Regions from separate parts of the Homo sapiens genome. Here regions 1 and 2 are each linked to region 3. Evidence: fine-mapped expression QTL. A gene starts in region 3. Each other region holds a variant in brackets. All regions are shown on one strand. Distances are between the middles of the regions.

What was found.
Region 1: its variant is fine-mapped to the expression of CAMK2D in whole blood (TOPMed, PIP above 0.99).
Region 2: its variant is fine-mapped to the expression of CAMK2D in whole blood (INTERVAL, PIP above 0.99). The same link has a PIP of 0.9 or more in monocytes.

The regions. Positions count from the first base shown.
Region 1 is chr4:113,786,883-113,793,624 of GRCh38, forward strand. No RefSeq gene overlaps it. Among named protein-coding and RNA genes, the nearest start is that of CAMK2D, 29 kb to the left of the region's middle. RefSeq lists a silencer at 2,191-2,250. The variant C/T (reference allele first, on the strand shown) is at 3,866.
Region 2 is chr4:113,794,781-113,801,522 of GRCh38, forward strand. No RefSeq gene overlaps it. Among named protein-coding and RNA genes, the nearest start is that of CAMK2D, 36 kb to the left of the region's middle. The variant G/A (reference allele first, on the strand shown) is at 3,392.
Region 3 is chr4:113,758,365-113,765,106 of GRCh38, forward strand. It overlaps CAMK2D (calcium/calmodulin dependent protein kinase II delta), which reads right to left and starts at 3,374. Exons shown (of 21, transcript NM_001321571.2): 1 at 2,640-3,374; 2 at 956-1,050. The coding sequence starts at 2,704. RefSeq lists a silencer at 3,161-3,570 and enhancers at 3,564-4,102, 4,103-4,641.

The DNA of each region.
Region 1 (6,742 bases), 29 kb after region 3:
TCCTAAAGTTAACTGTCCTGCTGAGTCTTGGATGCTAAGTGTGCAGGATAAGTTAGAAGCAGTCAGGATCTGGGGTTGGCCATGTAGAAGTAATATTAGCTAAATGGTAAATAGGAAGGTAAGAGATTGTGTTCAGAGATGTCAGCTAGGAAACAGAGTGATAACACAAAATATTCAGTTTAAAACTGTCAGGTTGTAAGGATCAGGATACCAGGCTGAGAGATTAAGGGAAAATGGTCAGAGACCTATGAGAGATGGAAAATTAAGATGGTTCAAGTACTTAAACTTTTCAGTATGTGTAGCAGGAGGCTATAATCTGAAGCATAGAGTCTAAATAGTTATAGATAATTATTACTGGTAGCTATTCTTAACTATTTTTATGAGCTTTATACTAAAACTACTAAGACAGAGGTTCTTACAGAGCTCTTAAGGCTAGAAATGTTATTAAAATATTAGACTTGAATGAATGGGTACTTAGCGGCAGGTGAGACCTGAATGGAATAGGGGACTGATGAGTAGAGAGCTAGACAATTTTCCTACCTACATGTTTCTGAAAAGGAAGTGCTTAGATTTGCATCCCAGCTCCATCACATACTACCTGTATGGATTAAATTCATGTCATTTAACCTCTCTCATAATATTTAATATAGAAGATTGCTATGATAATAAATGAAATAAGTGCCTGACATCATGTCAGATTCAGAGTAACCACTCAATAAATGTTAATTTCTGTCCTTCTTCATCTACCACCTAAGCACACTTTGTTTTACAGTATTATGTTTATTCTTGTATATCTCAATAAACTCTCTTTTTGATAATAGGAAAAGTGTGTTGGCATTTTATCACTAGTATCTACCTGATACATGGTAGGTGATCAAAAATGTATTCTATAGATATAGCATGTTTGGAAAGTATTCCCCTTCTAAAGGAAATATTCCCTTCCTAATAGGAAGATAATATGGAAAACTTTAAGACATTCTAAATTTTACCAAGGACTTAACAACAACAAGATATATATACATCATTTATACTTTCTAGGATAGATGTCAATGAGATTTACAAAAATTAGACTGATGGAACTCTGTGGTGATAGGAATCAGAAACTTGGTCAGTTAAAACACTTAGAAGTGGGCCTTCTTCCCAGTAAAGTAGTTGAAAATACTAGACACTTGCTTTCTTGGCCTCCTTTGCTGCTGATGTGAACTTCACTAGAAAGATACATAACCCTCAGCCATGATCATGTTAAGAATTTCCTTCCCCAAGTAGGGACTTGGGGAAGATAGCACTGCTGGGAGCAGCAGTGGCCCTGGGACATAGTCCAACAAAAGTGCTAGGTGGATTGGTTGCAGAGTGGTATCTTCCACAAATTGGTTATGCAACATGATTTTGGGCATTCTTTCTCAATTTTCTTTCCTAGGGATTCTGTGAGCAATCAATACCCTTTTCAATTCTACTTGCAACAAAACAGAAAGAATAGATTTTAAATATGCTGTCACCAAAGGCGCTCCGAACATATTTCTCTTTTCTTTACATTTTATCATGTTGGTGACATCGTAAAGGAAAAGATGCTGGAGGGGGAGGGCATCTTTCAAGGAGAAAAGAAAGATTTATGTTGGTACTTAAAATGAGTTAAAATTTATTTCTAACAATATTAACAGGGACAACAACAGCTGTAGCAAGGAGAGAAAGTGTGTATAGTAGTTTAAAAATTGAAGATGAAATACTAGGATGGTGTCAGAAATTTTGAGTTTAATACTCTAGGAATAAAGTGATTCTGATTAATATGAGGGTGAATTCAGAGACAGACAAGAGTCCGATGTAACTGATTACATTAGCTCCCTTCCTCAATAACGTTGCTGGCTACTGCCAAAACATTCCCACATCTAATTATTCCAGCACTGCTGCCCTTCCATATCATCAAATTTTCATTCTCTACTGGATAATTTAAATCAACATGCACATATACTGTAATATCTCTCACCTACAAAACCCTGCCCTGTTCCTATATCATCTTCTGTTTATATTCTACTCTACTTGTAGCAAAACTCAAGGAATAATTATCTAAACTCATCTTTATTTCCTCTCTTCTCATTCTCTCTTGAACCCACTTCATAAATCTTTCTTCCCCATTTAACCAAAACTACTCTTGTCAAGACCTTTTGTGATCTCTTTGTTGCTCATTTCAACAGTTTACTTTCAGTTCTCAAATTTCTTGACCCCTTCCAACAGAATTAGGCACAGTTAATTAGTCTCTCACTTTTGAACTACTTTTTGTGCTTGGACTTTAGGACAACAAATTCTCCCCTATCTCACTTTTCATTCTTTTCCCTTCTTTTGTGGGTTATCTCTCATTTTTCCAATCTCTAAGCTTTGGAATATCTCAAAGCTCAATTGTTAGAATACCACTCTTTTCTATGTAAACTCATTCCATAAGTGATCTCAATCCAATTTGCTTTAAATGCTATAGATTTCAAGATTCATAACTCCAGCCTAGATTTCACTCTTGTATGTCCAATTATCTACCTGATGTCTCCATTTGAATGTCTAATAGACATTTCAAACATTACATGTCTTAAACCAGACACCTGATTCCTCTATCAATAAACACTAGAATCAGCTCTTTCTGTAATCTTGTCCGTATGTAATTTCTGTTATGCATCATTTGACAATGGGGATATGTTCTGAGAACCATGTCCTTAGGTAATTTCCTAATTGTGCAAACTAAAAGTGTACTTATACAAACCTAGATGTTACAGCCTACTATAAATCTGGGCTATATGGTATGGCCTATTTCTCCTAAGTTACAAACCTGAACAGCGTGAGTGCTGCAGGCAGTTATAACACAATGGTAAGTATTTCTGCATCTACACATGTGTAAATATAATCTTCTGAGACCACCATTGTATAAGCGGTCAATCATTGACTAAAACATTGTTGTATGGCACATAACTGTATACAGTTAATTAAAATTCCATCTCTGCAGTTGTTTAAGCAAAACTCTAAAGTTGTATTTGCCTCCTTTCTTTATCTCACATTCAAACTATCAGCAAATATTGTTGGTTATACCTCAAAATGTATCTTAAATTTGACCATTTTTCAATATCTCCATTGCTACTACTTTGGTTCAAGATACAATACATCTTGCCTGAATTACTGTAAAAGCCTTCAACTGGTTTCCCCACTTGTGCTCTAGACTCCTAGTCTCTCTTTTCCACCTAGCAATCAGTGTGAATTTTTTAAAATAGGTCAGAGTATGTCATTTTTTTTCTATATTCAGTAAAATCCAAAGCCTATTCTCTGACCTTCAGTGCCCTACATAGTCTTCCTCCTGTTACTTCGCTGAATTTAACTACTCCTATTCTCACTTTGTTCACTGTGTTCCAGCCTTACTGGCCTCCTTGCTATTTCCCTCTCACCAAGTACCCACCTAATTTTGCAGTTGTCATTTTCTCGGCATAGGACATAGATAGCCAAGACATAATTTTCTTTTCCCATTTCTTTCTAGTCCTTCTTTAATTGTCACTTTGTTGTGAGACATAACATTCTCCCTAGACCCTATATGTCCATGAAGCTGTCTATGGTACTGGATTATAGTCATCTCTCACTTATTGCCTTAGAGCCTAGGCCTCAGATGGTGACCTAATACCTGCCTTAAAACTTACTTTTCCTGACTCCAATTAACCTCCATAGCTAGTTGCCAGCCCTACCTTTGGTCTTCCTTAATTTAGATCACAATTAAAACCAGCTTCCCACTGAGAAGTTCCTCAAACCTACAGCTCAGTTCTCTGGCCTGTTTCCTCATATTGCCGTGCTTGTTGCTTTCCTTTTGAACTTTGATGATGAAAGAGGGAAGTCTGTAAAACTT[C/T]CAGTTCCAAAATGATGGTGTAGAAGCAAGCTGGCTTTACTACCCCAAAAGAAAACCAAAATCAAATATACAGTACCAAGATTATCACCAGCAATATACAAGAACACAAATATGAAAAGGAGACAGTTCTCAGGGGCCACAGAGAACTGAAAAACTCTGAGAAGAAAGTAAAGAATTAGCCTTTCATATCTGAGATACTTCTCTTCCCAATCTGCCCAGAACCAAGTACATGGAAAATTTCCCCCATCTCACAGTTTCTAAACTGAAAAAAGTAAGATTGAGTTGAATAACCAAATTCTCCACCATCTGGGGATCCCTGGAAGTAGACATGTCCCTGTCTCAACCCATGAGAAGCATTGAGAGTGCCTAAAAGAAGAAATGTCCTGAGGATAGCCAGAGACAAAGGAGAGAGGCAGGATTACCATCCCCAGCCCTGGAAACTCTGCTTTTTAATTCAGCCAAAGGAGGTGGCAAATTAGAGTGGCTGTTCAGCAGCCCTATGCTGTAGGAGGTTTGTTCCACAGGTACCCTGAGCATGAACCCCTAGAAAGCCATCCCACACTACCAGGATATCCCATTTGGGATCTCTCCCATATGGGATGGGTGGTGATTGCTTACTAGAATTGAGGCAAACCTGGGCAGAAGGTGTCATTTAGTGTTGAAAAGGAGGCAGCAACCTGGGGGACAAAAAGAAAATAATCTAATAAATTATAAAGACTGCCTAAGGAAACATATCCAATAAAAACCAAAGCAAGCCAGACAAAGAAGACTGGAATAAATAACCAACTTTTCAATGCAAATACATAGATGTACATACACAAGAAACAACAGCAAGCAGGGGGCTATGACTTTCCCCTGAAAAAAGCAATTCAGTAATTAAAGAAATTTAACGAAGAGATTGAAGTAATAGGATGAAAATCAAACAGAAATCTTGAAACTGAGAAATACATTTGCTGAGTTGAAAAATTCACTGGAGGCTCTCAACAGTGCAATGAATCAGAGGAAAGAATCAGTGAGCTAGAAGATAAGCTATTTGAAAATATATAGTGAAAAGAGAAAAAAAAAAGAATGAAAAGAAACAAAGATTGCCTGTAAGATATAAAAAATGACATCAACTCGCTTGAGCCTAGGAAGTCAAGGCTGCAGTGAGTGATAATTGAACCACTGCAATCCAGCCTAGGTGTTAGAGCAAGACCCTGTAAAAAAGAAAAGAAAAAGATGATAGAAAAAGAAAATTACCTCAAAATACTAAATCTAAGAACAATCAGCATTCAAGATAGACTTGAGCAAGAGCAAGGGGTAGAAAGCTTATTCAAAGAAAGAATAACGGAAAACTTTTCAAATCTTGAGAAAAAGATAAATATCCAGGTACAGGAAAGCCAGAGAACATTAAACAGATGCAACCCAAATAAAACTACCTCAAGGCATATAATAATCAACCTCTTTGTCAAGAACAAAGTGAGGATCCAGAAAGCAGCAAGAGAAAAGAAGCAAATAACATATAACAGAGCTCTAATTGGTGTGGCAATCAACTTCTCAATGGAAACCATACAGGCCAGTGGGGAGGGAGATGACATTTTCAAAGTGTTGAAAGCAAAAAAAAAAAAAAACTCTGCCATTCAAGAATACTGTATTCAGCTAAGTTATCCTTTAAATATGAAGGAGAGATAAAGTTTTTACCAGACAAACAAAAGGTGGGAGAATTCACCACCACCAGACTCATCTTACAAGAAATGCTAAAGGGTGTTCTTCAATCTGAAAGAAAAAGAAAACTAACATACAAAAATAAAAAAAAATGAAGGTATAAAACTCACTGGTAAAACTAAGTACAGAAAAACCCAGAATACTCTAATACTGTAATTGTCAGGTGCAATTCATTCATAACTCTAGTATGAAGCCCAAAAGACAAATCTATTTAAAACAATGATGACTACAACAACCTGTCAAGATATATGACATATAAAATATGCACATTGAGACAACAGAAAGCCAAAATTGGGGTAGAGGGGATGGAGTTAAAGTTTAGAGATTTTTCCACTTTTTGTTTGTTTCTATTTTTTTCATTGAGCTCTAAGATAAGTTGTCAACTATTTAAAATAGTCATACCTATATGATGTTTTTTGTAACCCTCATGGTAACCACAATGTAAACCTATATTTATTCACTAAATGTAAAAAGCAGTAAATTAAAACATGCTACCAGAGAAAAGCACTTAACAAAAAAGCAGAGAAGAAAGGAGTTACAAATCACCCAGAAAACAAGCAACAAAATGGCAGTACTAAGTCCTCACCTATCAGTAATAACACAATGTAAATGGACTCAATTCTTCAGTTAAGAGAAACACAGTGGCCCAATGAATAAATAAATAAGACCCAATTATATGCTGCCTATAGGAAACCCACTTCACCTATAAAGACACACACAGACTTAAAGTGAAGGAGTGGAAAAAGATATTCCAGGCAACTGAAAACCAAAAAAGAGCAGGAGTAGCTGTACATGTATCAGATAAAATAGACTACAAATCAGAGACTGTCAAAACAGACTAAGAAGGTCAGTAGATAATGATAAAGGGATTAATTTAGCAAAAGAATATAAGACTTATAAATATCCACGTACCAAACACTGGTGCTACCAAATATATAAAGTAAACATTAATAGATTTAAAGGCAGGGATAGACTGCAATACAATCATAGTATGGGACTTCAGCACATCATTCTCAGTAATGGACAGATCATCCAGACAGAAAATCAACAAAGAAACATCAGAGTTAAACCACACACTAGATCAAATAGTTCTAACTAACATTTAGAGGACATTTCACCCAACTGCTGCAGAATACACATTCTTTTCATAAGCACATGGAACATTTTCCAGAA
Region 2 (6,742 bases), 36 kb after region 3:
GCAGTGGCTCAGCCTGTAATCCCAGCACTTTGGGAGGCCGAGGTGGGCGGATCACAAGGTCAGGAGTTCGAGATCAGCCTGCCCAATAAGGTGAAACCCCATCTCTACTAAAAATACAAAAATTAGCCAGGCGTGGTGGCGGGCGCCTGTAGTCCCAGCTACTCAGGAGGCTGAGGCAGGAGAATTGTTTAAACCCGGGAGGTGGAGGTTGCAGTGAACTGAGATTGCACAACTGCACTCCAGCCTGGGCAACAGAGTGAGACTCTGTCTCAGGAAAAAAAAAAAAAAAAAAAAAGAATCATATAATGATGTTAATAGATGCTGCAAAAGCATTTTGTAAAATTGGACATTTCTTTAGGAAAAAACCCCATACAATCTGGATAGAAAGGAAACATACCTTAAATTAATAAAGTCCAAACATGGCAAATCCACAGCTAACATCAGACTGAATGCGGAACAATTGAAAGCCTTTCCTCTAAGATCTATAACAAGACAAGTATGCCCACTTTCATCACCTTTATTCAACATAATACTGAAAATCCTGACCAGAGCAATTAGGCAAATAAAATGAAGGGCGTCCAAAATGGAAAAAAAAAAAGTCCAATTAGCCTTGTTCGTAGATAACATAAAATTGTACTTTAAAAAGCCTAAAGATTCCACCAAGAAACAGTGAAAACCAATAAATAATTCCATTTACAATAGCTACAAAATACTTAGGAATCAATTTAACCAAGAAGTGAAACACCTACACAAGAAATATATAAAATACTGATGAGTTAAGTTGAAGAGGATACAAAAAAAGGAAAGATATTCCATGCTCATGGATTGGAAGAATTAATATTGTTAAGTTGGCAATATAATTCAAAGCAATTTGCAGATTCAGTGCAATTCCTATTAAAATACCACTGACATTTTTCACAGAAATAGAAAAACAGTCTTACATTTTTATGGAATCACAAAAGATGCCAAGTAGCCAAAGCATTCCTTAGCAATAAATGACAAAACTAGAGGCATCACACTACCTGACTTAAAAATATACTACAAAGCGCTCTCCCTCTCCCTCTCCCGCTCCCTCTCCCGCTCCCTCTCCCTCTCACTCTCCCTCGTCTCCGTCTCCCGCTTTCCACTCTCTCCCCCTCTCCCTCGTCTCCGTCTCCCGCTTTCCATGGTCTCCCTCTGTTGCCGAGGCTGGACTGTACTGCTGCCATCTCAGCTCACTGCAACCTGCCTGCCTGATTCTCCTGCCTCAGCCTGCCGAGTGCCTGGGATTGCAGGCGCGCGCTGCCACGCCGGACTGGTTTTTGTATTTTTTGGTGGACACGGGGTTTCGCCGTGTTGGCCGGGCTGGTCTCCAGCTCCTGACCTTGAGTGATCTGCCCGCCTCGGCCTCCCGATGTCCCGGGATTGCAGACGGAGTCTCGCTCACTCAGTGCTCAATGTTGCCCAGGCTGGAGTGCAGTGGCGTGATCTCGGCTGGCTACAACCTCCACCTCCCAGCCACCTGCCTTGGCCTCCCAAAGTGCTGAGATTGCAGCCTCTGCCCAGCCGCCACCCCATCTGGGAAGTGAGGAGCGTCTCTGCCTGGCTGCCCATCATCTGGGATGTGAGGAGCCCCTCTGCCCGGCAGCCCAGTCTGGGAAGTGAGGAGCGCCTCTTCCTGGCCGTCATCCCGTCTAGGAAGTGAGGAGCCTCTTTGCCTGGCCGCCCATCATCTGGGATGTGGGGAGCGCCTCTGCCTGGCCGCCCCGTCTGGGATGTGAGGGGCGCCTCTGCCCGGCCACCCCCGTCTGGGAGGTGAGGAGCGTCTCTACCCGGCCGCCACCCCGTCTGGGAGGTGAGGAGCGCCTCTGCCCGGCGGCGACCCCATCTGGGAACTGAGGAGCGCCTCTGCCCGGCCACCACATCTGGGAAGTGAGGGGCCCCTCTGCCCAGCACCACCCCGTCTGGGAGGTGTACCCAACAGCTCATTGAGAACAGGCCATGATGACGATGGCGGTTTTGTCGAATAGAAAAGGGGGAAACGTGGGGAAAAGAAAGAGAGATCAAATTGTTACTGTGTCTGTGTAGAAAGAAGTAGACATAGGAGACTCCATTTTGTTCTGTACTAAGAAAAATTCTTCTGCCTTGGGATCCTGTTGATCTGTGACCTTACCCCCAACCCTGTGCTCTCTGAAACATGTGCTGTGTCCACTCAGGGTTAAATGGATTAAGGGCGGTGCAAGATGTGCTTTGTTAAACAGATGCTTGAAGGCAGCATGCTCGTTAAGAGTCATCACCACTCCCTAATCTCAAGTACCCAGGGACACAAACACTGCGGAAGGCCGCAGGGTCCTCTGCCTAGGAAAACCAGAGACCTTTGTTCACATGTTTATCTGCGGACCTTCTCTCCACTATTGTCCTATGACCCTGCCAAATCCCCCTCTCCGAGAAACACCCAAGAATGATCAATAAATACTAAAAAAATTAAAAATATATATATACTACAAAGCTATAGTAATCAAAACAACATGGTTTACAGTCATAAAAACAGAAACGTAGACCAATGGAACATAATGGAGAACCCAGATATACATTTATGTATTTACAGCCGACTCATTTTTTACAAAGATGCCAAGAACATACAATAGGGAAAGGACAGTCTCTTTAATAAATGATGCTGGAAAACTGGATAATCATATGCAGAAGAATGAAACTAGACCCCTATGTCTCACCACATACAAAAAATCAAATCAATATGCATTGAAGACTTAAATCTAAGACCTATCAAACTATGAAACTACTAGAAGAAATCATGGAAATCCTCCAGGATATTGTACTAGGCAAAGTTTTTTGTGTAAGACCTCAAAAGCACAGGCAACCAAAGCAAAAAATGGGCAGATGGGATTACATCAAACTAAAAATCTTATCACACACACATCAACACAGTAAAAAACCCACAGAATGCAAGAAAATATTTGCAAACTACCCATCTGAAAAAAGATTAATAACCAAAATATATAAGGAGCTCAAACAACTCAATAGTGGAAAAAAACCCAAATAATCCAATTAAACAATAGGCAAAACTTCTGAATAGACATTTCTCAAGAGAAGCCATACAAATGGCCAAGAGGTATGTGAAAAAGTGCTCAACATCTCTGATCATCAGAGAAATGCAACTCAAAACCAAAAATAAGATATCATCTCACCACAGTTAAAATACCTTTTATCAAAGATATAGGGAATAATGAATGCTGGCTAGGATGCAGAGAAAAAGGAACACATGTACACTGTTTTTGGGAATGTAAATTAGTACAGCCACTATGAAAAACACTGTAAAGTTTCCTCAGAAAAACAAAAAATAGAACTACCATTTGATTCAGCAATTTCACTTCTGGGTATATATCCAAAAGAT[G/A]GGATATCAATATATTGAAGAGATATCTACACTCCCACATTTATTGAAGCACTATTTACAATAGCCAAAATATGAAATCAATCTTTAAGTGTCCATCAATGGATGAATAAAAAATGTGGCATATATACACAATGGAATATTACTCAGCTATTAAAAAGGAAAGAAATCCTGTCATTTGCAGCAACATGAATGAAACTGGAGATAATTATGTTAAGTAAGTGAAGCACAGAAAGACAAATATATTGCATGTTTTCATTTATATATGGGAGCTAAAAAAGTGGATCTCATGAAGATAGAGAGTAAATTGGTGATTACCAGAAGCCAGAAAGGGGAGGGGAGAAGGGGATGAGGAGAGGTTGACTAATGAATACAAATATATAGTTTAATAGAAGACATAAATCTAGCTTTTGATAGATTAGTAGGGTGACTGTGTTCTACAATAATCTATTGTATATTTCAAACTAGCTAGAAGAGAACAATTTAAATGTTTCTAGCATCAAGAAAATACAAGTATTTAAGGTGACTTAAGGTGATCAATTACACTGATCTAATCTTCACAAATTAAATAAATATACAAAATTATCACATGCACCCTCAAAATATTTACATCTCTTCTATATCAATGAAATAAAGAAAACAGAGTTTTTTAAAAGAAGGAAGACTGTAGAAGTTGAAGGGAAGACAGGAACAGATGTGCCAGCTGTCGAGGTTTGACTTCTTAATAGGCTTTAGTTAGAGTCTAATCTTTCCCTAGGATTCCTTTTGCAAATTAGATAAACTATACTGTGTCCAAGAAATAAACTCTACTTTGGCAAAATTCAAATAATATAACCATATTTCTTCTAAATACAAGTGTATAGCATCAGGAATTGGGTATAAATAGAATATTACTTTATCATTCAGGAAAAGAAAAGTTTAATCAGCTGTCAAAAGGTACTGAACTAAAGCTTAATGATTTATATTAGTATTTCCAGATTATATAAACTTAGCATAGGCGGGTATATAAAAAAGTTCATGGAGATGAAAAGTCTATTTGTGGTCCTAATTATTTTAAATTTGAAAATAATGAGCTACATGGAAAGTCAGAACAAAAACAAGCTTAAAAGAAAAGGAAAATGCTGGTTAGGAGGAGAGAGTTTCAGAGAATTAGATGAAATAAATTCAGAAATGTTTTGGGCCAAAATACCATCACCACTGTTGTTTGAATAACAATTTAAATGGCCTTTTCTATTGCCATTATTTATCTCTCTTTTCTCTCTATCAGGAGACAGTGATTTGTCTGAAACATGCTACTACCTTGTTTAAAAAATCTACTATTCTTCAAATTCTAACGAATTAAGTTTGAAATCCATTGCATGACATACAGTCTTACTTTTTAAGATTTATCTCCGATTTATCTCTATTTGCATATATTTAGATGTAAAATAGATCTTCCTGACTGTGCAAGGCACTTTTGCTCTCCCAGGCCTTTGGTTAGGTTATTTTCCAACGCAACAGTGCCTTTATATTCCTTTCATGGCTGGAGGAATCTTACGTATTCTTTAAGGTAAACTCAAAAGTCACTCCCTGTGAAAGGCACTAATTCAAATGGGATTTTTAAAAGTTCTCCTCATTAACCAAGGTAAAGATTTTAAAACATATAAGCTAGTATTTGTAACATACATGTAATATTTGCAAATGAAAACATGGCATGCTTGTATAGAGTTTCTCAATGCAAGAATTTAAGTCATTTAATAAATATAAAGAAAGAATTGTCTGTACCTCCAGAGTAGCTGCTATGGTAACACAAACCTAGCATCTTACAAAACAAAATAAAAAAAAACAGTGGGTGTTATGGTTTGAATGTTTGTCCCCTCCAAAACTCATGATAAAACTTAATTGCCATTGTAACTATATTAACAGTTGGGGTTACTAAGATATTAAGATCATTAAGATATTAATAGGTGATTAGGCTATAGGGCTCTACCCTCATGGGTGAGATTAATACCATTATGAAAAGACTGATTTGGCCCTTTCTTGCCCTCTCTTTGCCCTTTCACTTTATGCCATTTGATAATACAGCAAGAAGGCCCTCACGAGATGCCAGCACCTTAATATTGGACTTTCCAGCCTCCAGAACTGTTAGCCAATACATTTTTATTCATTATAAATCTCCCATTCTGTTTTTGTTTTGTTTTGTTTTGAGACAGAGTCTCGCTCTGTCGCCCAGGCTGGAGTGCAGTGGCGCAGTCTTGGCTCACTGCAAGCTCCGCCTCCCAGGTTCACGCCATTCTCTTGCCTCAGCCTCCCCAGTAGCTGGGACTACAGGCGCCTGCCACCATGCCCAGCTAATTTTTTGTATTTTTAGTAGAGACGGGGTTTCACCGTATTAGCCAGGATGGTCTTGATCTCCTGACCCCGTGATCCGCCCACCTCGGCCTCCCAAAGTGGCATCCTGTTTTATTTTGTTACAGCAGCACAAAATAGACTTAGGCAGTGGGAAAATAAAATAAAATTAAGTGTGACGATATAATCAAAGTACATATTATATTACATGCATGTAACAAAATACCCACAGACACCATAAAAATGTGCAAATATTATATATCTATAAAAATACACAAAAAACCCTGCTTAAATTCCACTGGAGGATTAACATACCAATAGCTCCTAAGAGTACATTATGCTTATCCAGATGTTTACAATGGCCAGAAATAAACTAAGGGCAACTGAAGCAATTCCTTGCTTTTGGAACTGTTAAAAAAAAATTTGCAAGATGTATTTAATTACTGACAATTTTTTTTTTTAAATGAACTCAGACAGATGCAGTTGTTCAGCTAAAGGGCTCGTTGATAGAACTGGTAAGTTATGCTTCACTCTGCTTTTAAAGATGGCTGTTAATGTGACTGATGTTTCTTGCTAACATGGTGAAATATAGTGAATCCTGATGGTTTCTTTAGCAGCTGGGTAGTAAATCTAGCAGCCAATCCAAGTTCTTATTTGTCTTGATGTTTCTTGTTTTATAGCTAGTGTAATGAAAAGCTAAGCATTCAAATAATAGGCCTGCTTACTGAGTCCACTGGCAGGTTCTGATTGGCTGGCAGACAGGCTTCCCTGTTCTAGGAAAGACATGCAAAATCCAGACCTCTTATGTTCTAGGAAAGAAAAATGTTGTTGATGACTGGCCCACAGGCCATAATTAAGAAAGAGTCTGAAGCATGATGGATATATTTTTAAAAATTTATGCTAGCATTGGAGCCATCTAATTCAAAAGTATGAAAATGAAGGCATAAAAGTAAGAGATATATTTTGTATTTGTTACCCTGGACATACCAGGCATTACATATCTGTTGCTTTCTATGAATGATTAGC
Region 3 (6,742 bases):
GGCAGAGACCGAAAGCAATGATGCCAGGATTTTGGTAAGAAGCACTTTTGAAAAGACATATTAAATGAGGAAAACTAAACCTAATGGAATTTCTTCTCTCATTACTTAAAATAAACCAGGTCACTGAGATGAGCGTACACTATGGTATTTTGTTCATTTTCATTTCATTTTTATACCATAAATTCCCATGGAAATACCTCAGACACGTGCCCACAATAATTGGAATGCCTAACATTTCAGCGTAAGTACTTTTGCATGAGTTCTACTAAATAAAAAGAATGCAGTGAGAGCCCTCCAAGTTTTTTGGTTATGTCAACAGCTATTTTACGAGTATGAATTATCTCTGTACCTATAAACTACATGTGTAAAATACATTACATGAGTCTGTGTGAAGCCTTAATGCGAAGACCAAGGTCTGAGCTGCACACAGAAACATCAAAATAAAACTAAACTTCCTAGAATATAGCAATCATAAATTTTCTTACCAAAGCTATTACTGTTAAATATACCTTGATGAATTAAGTTCAAGTGTAACTACAATTGAAATGTATGATTCAACTGAGCTATGACCTACTTCCCTCTCAAAAGCAAAAGGGAATTATGACAGTTGTGAGACTTATATTTTTCCATTCCATGGTCTAAAAGTTGTTTTATACTTAAACTATAAGCAAAATGCACCTGACATTTATTTGCTTTAAAATATAGTTATTCATGCTATTGCTCATAGGACAGATAGAATTTTAATAGCAATGTATCAAATAATAATTATATCTTTCCATGTATTTTTAAGCTGTACAGACCAAGAAGCATTCAGGAAGAAAATAATCTTAATATATAATATGATACCTAAGTCTAAAGTTCAGTTATAACTACATGATATATTTACATACAACAGAACCTATAATCAACATGACAAATACAAAATTAACCAATATATGTGGTTGAAAATACCCACCCCTAGCAGAAAGCTTTTTGGTGTTGATAATTTTGGCAGCATATTCTTGTCCAGTAGGAATTTTCATACATCTTCTCACCACTGAGAATGCCCCCCTGGAAACCAATAATTAGCAGGTCATTAATATAACAGATATAATATTTCATTAAAAATTTATAAAATCTGAGCATTTTTATTGATTTTAGTGGATTGCCAGTGAAGTACAGTAATATCCAGTAAATGAACAATTCTTCCTGGAAACCCAGACTTTCTTTAATGTTGAAGAATAAAAGTAAATTTTATTTAACTGGGAGCACACATTATTAATCAACAAAATGAAAGGAACTGCCAATTATGACCGCTCTTGTTTGCACAAGAAATTTGAAAACATTTTACAGTTCACACTCACAGCACCAAATGCTCTGAGAAAAACCCTGCACAGAACAGAGCAGACGAGGAGCAGCAAAAAAATCTGCTGCCTACTTATTTTGGTAGGAAACAAAAAATTAATGTGGTTCCAAGTAAGTAAACATGACGATTATTTTCATTAAAATATAAATCTTGAGCACATTAGTGTGGTTTAACAAATCCTGGTATGGTGATTTCTCTATGCCTTGTTTTGGACTGGGGGAGGGGAGAGATTTGAATTAAGCTGCTCTTCCGACATATTCTCCATGTTTTAACACCAGACAATATATACATATGTAATTTTTATTACTTTTAAAAATATTTACCTTTCCTTTAATTACAGTATAAACCAACAACATACATATAAACGCACTCCTTTCATAAAAGTAACAGTCGAAACTAGTGAAAGAGGAATTGGGTTTGGGTTCCATGCTACAAAAATCAGCATTCACGGCTTGGCCCCTAGGTCCCTTTGCATAAGTCCTCAGTAGGTCTCCTGCCTCCTTCCCTAACATCTCCAAGTAGTTCTGCCAGTCGGGTGAAGGAGGTGGTTTTACACAATGCTAGGCTACGCTTAAGAGCGCTCTCAGTCTCCAGAGGGCTTTTCCGTTGCCTGTATAAATAAATCCTCCCAGAGAACGCAAAGATGCACACGTAAATCCTAGGAAGAATGATGGTGAGCGGTAATCTGGTGCAAAGAACAACACTGGATATAGGGCAAGGGGTTGGGTTCTGTTGGGTGGCCCTTTTCCTGGACAGAACAACTACTGGATGCGAAATAGACTCTATGCCAAGTTGAACTTTCGGCATCAATAAATATGGCACCGTCTGAGGCTGTGAGTTCTCATCAGTACCTGGGTCATACGGCCGACACGCCGGCTAACCAGGAGGCATCTCTATTTACAGAAAACATGATCTATGTTGCATTTTACATGGGTTCTAATTTCCTCTCCAAACACACATTACACACAGGCGCGCGCGCACACTTCTCAGGATGATAGCTACAACTGCAGAGATCGTAAATTCACTAAGTCTCTCAGTGCAGGAGGGTGGGGGACCGGGAGAAGGTGGGCTAGGGACCATCAAAATGAGCCACAGTTGGAGTAAGGGTCCTACCCCTTCTGTGCTCCCTCCCTTTATTAAGACAGCACCTTCCCCAGAGCTGACAAACCAGGGGCCCTCCTCCCATTCCTCTCCCAAACTCCCTCGCCCCAAGACGGAGGCCGGTGGGTCGGGGGCAACGCGACCCGCCCTCAGCTGGAAAGGGGATATGCGGATGCCGGGCAAAGGTGCTTACTTTCCAAGCTCCTCGAAAAGCTGATACTCGTCCGTGAACCTGGTGCAGGTTGTGGTCGAAGCCATCCTCGGTCCGGGCTGTGCCCTGGCTGGGAGCGCGACGGACCAGAAGCGAGCAGACGCGCGGCTAACCCCGGGACTGGCCCCGCGGCGCTGTCACCCAGGGCCGCTCTTACTTTCCTGGTCCGAAAGTAGCTCGCCCGCGAGGGAGTGTGCGCAGGGGCGGGGCGGGAGGGGAGATGACCAGAAAGGGTGGCGTGGGGTCTCCTCCCCACAGTCCGCCGATCCTCCTCCTCCTGCGGGCCTCGCTTCCTTCTTCTCCACTGGACGCTCCACCCGCCCCTTTTCCAGTCCCTGTCCCCAAATGCAGGGGGTAAAGTACTCAAGAAGAGGGGGCCGGGAAATGGAAAAACAGCCAGGCACGGGACGAGTGGCAAGCAGTTGCGAAACGATCCGCACTGGAGCAGGAGGAGTAGAAGCAGAGGGGAGGGAGTCCGAGGGGGCGGAGGTGGAGTGCAGCGGGGCCGAGGCCGCGGAGCCCAGAGCGGACAGCCTGAGCCCAGCGGCCGCTGTCAGCAGGCTCAGGCGCGGGGCGCGCCGGGGCTCCGACGAGCGTGCGCGCCCGAGGCCGGCTTCCCTCCGGCGGGCGGCAGCGGCTCCGGCGAAGCGAGGCACCTTGGCGGCCTCGCGCTGCTCACGAGCCCGCGCGGCTTCAAGACGGCGCGGCGAGAGAAAGAGCGCTCGGCTCAGGCGAAGCCTCTTCTGCCGTCCCCAGGCCTCCGTCTCCTCCTCCGGCGCCTCCTCCCGCCGCTCCCTCCGCCTGCCAGCACCCCCTCCCTGGCGAAGCCCCCTCCTCGCTGGTCCCACACCTCCCTCTAGCGACTCCAAGCCTGTCCCTTCGTGGATCTCTCGCACTCCCTCCTTTGGTTGCACACACGAGCACACCAGTCTAGGGAGAAACCAGGTGGGTGGAGGAGGATGTGCGGGGGAGAAGACTGGAGGTTTGGGTGAATGAGGCGAGAAGTCACAGTTACCCATTTAAACCCGCACAGAGAAGGCTGCCTCAATCTGGGGCTGACTGAGCGGGAAGATGCAGGGCAACTCGAGGATGGCCCGGGGCAGCCGCCCTGGGTCGCGGAAGCCCACGCCCCTGTTTTGGGCGCCGGGCAGCAGGGACTTCTCCAGGCCGGTTCCCGGGCCACGACACCCGGTGGGCCGAGCAAGGGAGAGCAACCACTTCATCTCCACGCCGCTCAGAGTTGACACAGCAGGGGCCGGATGTGGGCTGTTCACTGCTCTCAGAGAAGGGTCCCAACCCTTCCCACAGCCACCAGCGACTGTCGGGGCAAAACCCAGCCTCAGCAGGGTTCACTGCGTCGCCAGCTCCCCAGAACCGGGCGCAGGTTTTCTCCCTCCCCCGCAGCCCCTTCTGCAAGGGGCAATGACGGCCCCTGAGCCACATTACACTTGCCACCTCCAGGCCCACCTCCCCCGCTGTTTTCCAGGATGGTGGCTGAGACTCTGGCAATCCCCAAAGGCCTTTGCTTTGGCTGTGAACGTTAAAAGAATGAAAGCAAAAACTCCGCCGCACAACCACACCTTCCCTTCCCTTCTGAGTAACTCCCCTGCAACCTCAGTAAGTTCTGATAGTAAGGCGAATTCTCGCGATATTTCCCACTCTGGCGGTCAGGGGGAGGTAGTAGGAAGGCTGGGTGTCGGTCACGCGACCCGGCGGGGGCTGACGTCATTCACATCACGTGAACACGTCTAGACTGTTTCGCTTTGCAAAGGGAAAAAAGAAAAGGGGCCGTCGTGTGTGCTTTTGCTTTCAGCCAGATAGTGGCAATTGAGTGCACTCCGTAAATGGCTATCTGGAAAAACCATTTAGCAGTTCAAGAATGTGTCCTTCCCTTTAGCATATCTGCCATTGTTTTCAGTAGGAGGAAAAAAAAAGTATGCATTACGATTTAAAATAGATAAACTGCTGCCGATTGCTAGAACAACTTCTGGGCCCTCTTTCCAGTTCTCCTTAATGAAACTATGCAATTGCAAATTTAGCCGCAGACCAAAAACAGCGTTATGGACGGTCTTTTTCAAATTACTGCCAATTGTTCTACAGCACGGGACTATAAAAACCTTGCAATCCTATTGCTAATTTGCTCGTGGTATTACTTCATAGACAAAATTTCACAGCTGAAAGATAAAAGATAATTTGCAGACACAAGAGAATCTAAGATTTAAAGGCGCTGCTGCTTGCTCCCAAAGACTGCTATTAATTAATGTTACTTTGTGGTCATAGATAATCCTAATTCCTTTTTTCCTGATCTGGGGAACGCTTCTGCCAATGAGTGAGCTTTTTACTGAAGTACTAAAAATGTTCACAAATTTTAACGTTTATTACAACAAAATTGAAGTTCGTATGTGTTTTGATTCCCAGCCGTAAAAGGCAAGAAATAACTGTGTAAAATGTAGTGCTATAGAAAAAGATGATACCAAGAACTGCATAAAAGAAACATGGTCTCTAAATATTAATAATTGGGCTATAAATTGAAAAAAAAAACACAATTTGGTCTTGGCTAAAGATTTGTAATATCTGAACTATTTAGCAATGTGGCTCCAAGGTGATAATGAAATAATTTAATATTTTTCCCTGAATCTAAGAATGAAACAGAAAAAGTAAAATTAAAACAATAAAGGTAATATAAAAATTTACATCTGGGAAGAAAATTGTTTCTTAAATATTCAAGTAATGAAGTCTACATAATTACAGTATTTATCTCAGTTATTTAAACTACCAATAATTGTAAATGGTTATAATTGTGGAGTACAATAAAGGAAACATAACTGAGTTTTAATACTGATGTATTATTAGACAATAAATGTGTACATTTTTTACAGCAAACACTGCTTAATCTGTACGTACCCTTTCTTTGATTTATATTTTAGACTAAATATTTCTCTTATTTGAACAAATATTTACAGTTATTTCTGAAGTTTGAACCTCCTTAAAAAGTAGTCAGATTAGCCGGGCGCAGTGGCTCACGCCTGTAATCTCAGCACTTTGGGAGGCCGAGGCGGGTGGATCATCTGAGGTCAGGGGTTCGAAACCATCCTGGCCAACATGGCAAAACCCCGTCTCTAATAAAAATACAAGATTAGTCGGGCATGGTGGCATATGCTTGTAATCCCAGCCACTTTGGAGGGTGAGGCAGGAGAATCGCTTGAACCTGGGAGAAGGAGGGAGGTTGCAGTGACCCGAATTCGCGCCACTGCACTCCAGCCTGGGCAACAAGAGCAAAACTCTGTCTGAAAAAAAAAAAATAGTCAGATCAAAGACTTTGTTGTTGTTGTTCTACTTCAACATCATTTCAGGAATAGCTACAAAATAGAGATAAATTCTAAAAAGTGTAGAAATGTAGACCTATAAACATAATAACACTGGATGTTAGTGCCAAATGTATTTACATTTCATTATACATGCCTTACTAACTGCATGTCTGATGAACATGGTAGAGAAAGTTAAGAGGGAGAGTTAGTGAATAAAAAGTTAGTCATTAAAGTTGTTGAAGATAATAAGGCAGGCTTTATTCAAGGGGGTCCATGGTGATCAGAACCACTGCAACCAGGTCTTGCAGGAGGAGAGAGAGATTGGACTCTATTTCAACTCTTAAAAGGCCAAGTGGGGATTTACAAGCAAGGAGCAGGGTAGAGGGCTGTGGATATAAAATGACTAAGTATTCTCCCTCTTTCCTCTTTGGCAACTTGGAATTTAAAAAAATCCAAGACTTCAGTAGTTTCACCCAGAAAGTACAAGTTTCTAATGCTTACATTAACAAAGGCAGATATTAACAGATACTAACATTCATTGATTTCCTCTGCTACAAAGTTATAAGATAAGAAACAGCGAAGAGATAATGTTATCTCTATAGCTCCCCAAAGTGCAGAGTCCATCAGTAAATAGCAGATTCCTGTGAAAATTTTAGCAGGTGCTGTGTTGAAGCCACTCTTCACTGCAGATTTGGAGGCTAGGGGAAAAAAGTAACAGCAAGTTGCTGCCTTTCCAAACTATGATAACTAAACCATATAGAGCCAGACAGTCTACTG